Linked DNA regions of Homo sapiens: region 1 is linked to region 2. The links come from fine-mapping of genetic effects on gene expression. A gene starts in region 2. The other region holds a variant in brackets. All regions are shown on one strand. Distances are between the middles of the regions. Region 1 has its middle 16 kb from the start of RCBTB1. Region 2 holds the start of SETDB2 (SET domain bifurcated histone lysine methyltransferase 2).

Region 1 (2,709 bases), 160 kb before region 2:
TGATCTCAGCTCACTGCAAGCTCCGCCTCCCGGGTTCACGCCATTCTCCTGTCTCAGCCTCCTGAGTAGCTGGGTCTACAGGTGCACGTCGCCATGCCCGGCTAATTTTTTTTTTTTATTTTCAGTAGAAACGGGGTTTCACCATGTTGGCCAGGATGGTCATGATCTCCTGACCTTGTGATCCACCCACATCGGCCTCCCAAAGTGCTGGGATTACAGGCGTGAGTGACCGCGCCCGGCCTGGGTTTTTGCATTTCTGATGAACAATGGGTCCACCTGGACTCATCAACCAGTCCTGTGGGCCCCACCCAGAAACCAATTCAGCTCAGGACAGCTTTGACTCCCTATGATTTCATCTCTGATCCAACCAATCAGCACTCCCGACTCACTGGCCCTGTACCCACCAAACTGTCTTTGAAAAACCCTAGTCTCTAAATCTTTGAAGAGACTGATTTGAGTAATAATAAAACTCTGGTCTCCTGTCAGCCAGCTCTGTGTGAGTTAAACTCTGTATCATGACTCCCCTGTCTGGATAAATCAGCTCTATCTGGGCAGCAAGGAAAACGAACCCACTGGGCAGTTACAAGACTACAGAAATGTGCCACCACACCCAGCTACCCTTCTTTTTTGAAAATATCTTCTGTCTTGGCTCTAACACCTTTCTCTGTTTTAGTGCTTTATGCTTATGCCAGTCCCCAGTTTTCTCTAACGAAATTCTACCTCTCTTAAAGCTCAAATTTCATGTATTGAGTCAAAGCCTTCCAAGATATGTAAGGGTTATACCAATTGCAGCCTTTTACTATTTGCTGTCTTCTATCCCAGGTTTTATTTCCAGGTGAGTTTATACAGCTTGCGTCTGCCAAATCAGATTTTAAGCTCCTTCATGGGAGGGACTGTCCTGTTTTCTTTGTATTGCTCAGAGAAAAGAGTAAAGTTTTGTGCAAATAGCTGTTGATGACTGACTCATTCATTTAAAAGCCAAGTTTATGAGATTTCTGCAAACATTTTAATGTCTATCTTTCATGGAGTTTTATAAGAATAAAGTGCAATAGCTCTCATAAAGCTTCCTTCACAGATGAAAAATAACTTGTATTTGGGGGACAATGATGGCAGAGGTGGTAGTATTTTATAGCCAGTGGTTTGGGTTAGAGGAGTTTTACAAAAAATAAATTAGTAGGCCGGGTGCGGTGGCTCACACCTGTAATCCCAGCACTTTGGGAGTCCGAGGCGGGCAGTTCACGAGGTCAGGGGATCAAGACCATCCTGGCTAACATGGTGAACCCCCGTCTCTACTAAAAGTACAAAAAATTAGCCGGGCATGGTGGCGGGCACCTGTAGTCCCAGCTATCGGGAGGCTGAGACAGGAGAATGGTGTGAACCCGGGAGGCAGAGCTTGCAGTGAGCCGAGATTATGCCACTGCACTCCAGCCTGGGCGACAGAGCAAGACTCCGTCTCAAAAAAAAAAAAAAAAA[AT/T]CAGTGCCTTTTCTCATATTGAAATGAGGACTATTTTATATGTACTAACAACTAAACTTGTTTTGCTTTTCTGGGGGAAGGGGTCTTTCATCCTAACTATTCACTTTTTTTCTTTCTTTTTGCATATTTGCTTAACATAGTTACTTTAAAAATATTAAAATTTATAGCTGAGACCCAGTAAGGTGGCTCACATCTGTAGTCCTAGCACTTTGGGAGGCCAAGGCAGAAGGATTGCTTGAGGCCAGCAGTTCAAGACCAGCCTGGTGAACATAGTGAGACCCCGTCATCTCCACACACAAAAAAATAAAAAATTCGTGAAGCATTCCATATTTTTTTCTGAGATAAAAAAAAACTAAAAAGTTATAGCTGAAAAAGTTTAAATTGTATACCTTACATCATAAAGATCTTAGACTGTTTTAACTGTGAATCTTGCCTCTCACCTTTCACTTGATTGCTAGGTACTAGTCTAGTTCCACTCTGTGCTTATCCTCTAAAAATCAGTAATTTCTTTGCTCATCATTAAGCCTCACATACTGATCCTTTCTGCTGGGTTTATTTTTCCTCTTTCTAAACTACATCCTGGCCAGGCGTGGTGGCTCATGCCTATAATCCTAGCACTTTGGGAGGCCGAGGCGGGCAGATCACTTGAGGTCAGGAGTTCAAGACCAGCCTGGCCAACATGGTGAAACCCCGTCCCTACTAAAAATACGAAAAAATTAGCCAGGCACGGTGGTGCATACATAGTCGCAGCTACTCTGGAGGCTGAGGCAGAAGAATTGCTTGAACCCAGGAGGCGGAGGTTGCAGTAAGCCAAGACTGCACCACTGCACTTCAGCCTGGGTGACAGAGCAAGACTCTGTCTCAAAATAAATAAATAAACTACATCTTTCAGGACTTCTTTCAGCAAGGGTCTGTGAGTGGGAAATTCTCTTAGTCTTGGTTTGATAATGTCTTTATTTTATCCTCACTTTTGAATACCAGTTTAACTAGACAGGGAATTCTAAACCGACAGAAATTTTCCCTTTCATTTTGAAGATACTGCATTATCCTCTGTGCATTATCTACTGTTTGAAATAAGAAACCAGCTTTCGGTCTCTTGTTGTTTCTTTATAGATGACGTGACTTTCGGGGCTATCCTGAACATCCGTAGCACCCAGTGCAAAATTACAAATGGGGGATACCATATGTCTAAAAATTTTTAAGTCAGAAATCAAGCGAATAACTTGTTAAATAAA
Region 2 (3,019 bases):
GAGACGGAGTCTCGCTCTGTCACCAGTGCAGTGAGAAGGGTGCAGTGGCGTGATCTCGGCTCACTGCAGCCTCTGCCTCCCGGGTTCAAGCGATTCTCCTGCCTCAGCCTCCCGAGAAGCTGGGATTACAGGGGCCCGCCACCACACGCCCGGCTAATTTTTGTGTTTTTAGTGGAGACGGGGTTTCACCACGTTGGCCAGGCTGGTCTTGAACTCCTGACCTCAGGTGATCCGCCCGCCTCAGCCTCCCAAAGTGTGGGGATTACAGGTGTGAGCCACCGCGCCCGGCCCATAGCTTTGTTTTTAAGCAGCTCTCACCAGCGTTCACACCTGAAAATTTGAAAACTGAACGTGCACAAGTAAAACATGTTTCCTGGAGAAAATCTGCAAAATACAATAAAGCATAAAGGAGAAAATTTAAACACCATCCCATCATCCAGAGACAACTGGTGTTAATATTTCAGAGAGTAAATGGGCTTAAAAAACTTTTTTCCCCTTCTCACTTTTTCATTTTGGTAGAAAAATAATTAAGCCAGTCTGCTTTGCTTCAATGTATGGTTCCTTTTCGTTTCTAAAACAGGCTTTAAAAACACGTTTACCATTTCCTCTCGGCTCCTTACGTTTTAATTGTAACGACAGAACCACGGGTTAAGTCACGCTTAAGAACCACGGGTTAGTCACGCTTCTAACTACTTCACGTGTTCTTATTTAATCCCCCTAACAGTCATGTGGGTTAAATTAGCAGCTCGTTTGCTGATGAGGAAGCTAAGGAATGCCATACCGTAAGTGGCAGACACGAAATAAGGAACCAGGCAGCATGGTTTCAGAGCCTATGCTTTGGTTACTCCATTTGACCTCTTCAAATTTACTCCTCTCCTTGGCCTCATGTGTTAGTATTTACAGAGCTCACTGCAGGTTTCCACATGCCAAAGAGCACAGTTAATTACATATCTTTCCTTACTTAATTACTTATTGGGCTGTGGCTGATAGCGAGTCAGAAGTGTTACTATCTAATCTGAACTCCATGATCTTGGATGAATGACTGAACTTGCTGTATTTAAGGGCTCGTGTAATCTTACCTGTGAAATGGGCTAGTGGTTTAACCTTCAAGTTCTGCTTCTGGGTTTTATACTGCTGTCCATTTCCTGCCGCCCCTTTGACAACCTCAGGTTCCCAGCAGCTTAGGAATCACCTCTCATTAAGGCTGCACCCTGAGACAGACAGGCTGAAATGGAGGTTGGAAACTCAGTGCGCCCGCGGCCCCTTCTGCAGCCAGGACTGCACTTGGGTGCCAGGAGAAGGGAGGCTGCAAGGGCTGGGGTCCAGCCCCTGCTCGGGCGGCCGAGGGCTCCGCGGCGTTTTCAGCTCCTCCAACCTCCCGGCTAGAGGAACTGTCGGGGGCCAGCCACGGCGGTGCCTTGGTTTCACCTGGCTCCGCTGCGTTTTCTACGCCGCCCGCCTGACCTGAGGAGTGAGCTCCGCCAGCTCCGTTGGCAAGGCTGGGTTCCTCCGCGGGTGGGGCTCTCCTCCGACGCCAAGCCGCCCAAACCTCCCGAGCGCAGGTGCCCTCTGGCCGGGAAGTACTTCACCATTTACTAGCCTTCATCTCAACCACAACAGTCCCGCCCTGCCTCTACCGGGGATGAGGGAAGGCGTAACCTCCGCCGGGGACCAGGCCGACCTACCTAAACCGATCACTACATGGGAGGAGTCGGACGCCGGCCGTCCCACCACCCAGCCAGGAGCCCATTGATTGGTCGCACTCCCCACTGGTTCACGCCTCAGAGACTCGGCGCACTTACCGCTGGCACCGCAGTGGCGCCCGAGCGCGCCGCCTCCCGATTGACTGCTAGCGCTCTCGGCTTGTCTCGCGCACTGTAGCTGAGCCAATGGAGTTACTCGTAGTCGAGAGGCCGGCATCACTGGAGTGGTGGCGCAGCTGTTTCCTCCGGTAGGTGTGAGGCTGCCATCTTGTGTGTGGCTGGGACTGGGCTTCTTGGGGGTTGAAAACATACATAGCGCCTGGCCGTAGTGGAGGGGTCCGGAGAGAACAATGGGGTAAAGGAGAGGCCTAAGGGAGGAGACCCAGCGCCTTCCTACTTGCGGAAAGGATGGGTTTCCTGGGCCTGAGTCTCATCCCTGGCTAGAGAGAGCGAGGAATGGTGGTGGTGGTGGTGGTGATGGTTGTGGTGGTGGTAATAGTAGGGATCCCAGGTTTTGGTTTGTTGATCATTGTGGGGGCTGGGCGGGGCCTTTGATGCCTTAACATTGGTTCCTGGGAGCTCTTTTAGTAATTTTTGTCTCGCAAAGATTCTGACCATCAACCCCCTTTGACAAAGGAGGCTAGCTGATGAACTGCCTGATTGAGAAAGGAGCAAAGCTAGTAGTGGAAGGGGAGTGCCTCTCTACTATCCTCAGGTTCAGAAGAGACCTCCTCTTCCGTCCTTTTCGAGGGAGCGGCTGCTAAACAGTTTGCTCTTCGCGGGGGTTACTTTACTAAGGCCATCCTTTGGTAATAGTGGGCGTCAAGTTCTGCGTTTGGGCAAAATTGTACATTAGCGGGCAGCCAAGCATTCCTGCAGCTGTCTTTTTTTTTTCTTTATTTTAAGCTAGAAAGTGGTGGTCTTGCAGAAACGGGGCGTGAAGGAAGAATTTTGTCAAATCTTGATTTCCCCGATAACGATATGTTGAAGATTATAAATCTCTGGGTCTGCCATGACATGCTTGGTCACTTCATGGAGCAGGAGGAGGCTTTGTTAGGGAAAGCACCTTAATTTCTGAGCTCTTTTTGGGGTAGGAGGAAGAAGACAGGACTTAACCTTGTTTCCCTCCTCCTTTTTTTTTTTTTTTTTTAGCATTGTTGTGGATGGCATTGCATTGTCTTTCATTTGAGGGGAAAATGTATTGGATCTGAAGACCAAGCTGATGAAAGGCTAATATTTTGTGGTAGATTTTAGCAGTTTGACTTGCATGAAAAGAAAGCCGATGTATTATTGCCTTCAGCTTAGATTTCAGTTAT

Evidence for each region.
Region 1: its variant is fine-mapped to the expression of SETDB2 in B cells (Fairfax 2012, PIP 0.95).

Annotation. Positions count from the first base shown.
Region 1 is chr13:49,600,422-49,603,130 of GRCh38, reverse strand. No RefSeq gene overlaps it. Among named protein-coding and RNA genes, the nearest start is that of RCBTB1, 16 kb to the right of the region's middle. The variant AT/T (reference allele first, on the strand shown) is at 1,474.
Region 2 is chr13:49,442,918-49,445,936 of GRCh38, reverse strand. SETDB2 (SET domain bifurcated histone lysine methyltransferase 2) reads right to left here and starts at 1,663. Exons shown (of 14, transcript NM_001160308.3): 1 at 1,080-1,663. CAB39L (calcium binding protein 39 like) reads left to right here and starts at 1,873. Exons shown (of 11, transcript NM_001079670.3): 1 at 1,873-1,951. SETDB2-PHF11 (SETDB2-PHF11 readthrough) reads right to left here and starts at 1,663. Exons shown (of 21, transcript NR_135324.2): 1 at 1,080-1,663. RefSeq lists enhancers at 510-1,283, 1,966-2,045, 1,284-2,056, 2,426-2,495 and silencers at 1,756-1,805, 1,477-1,957.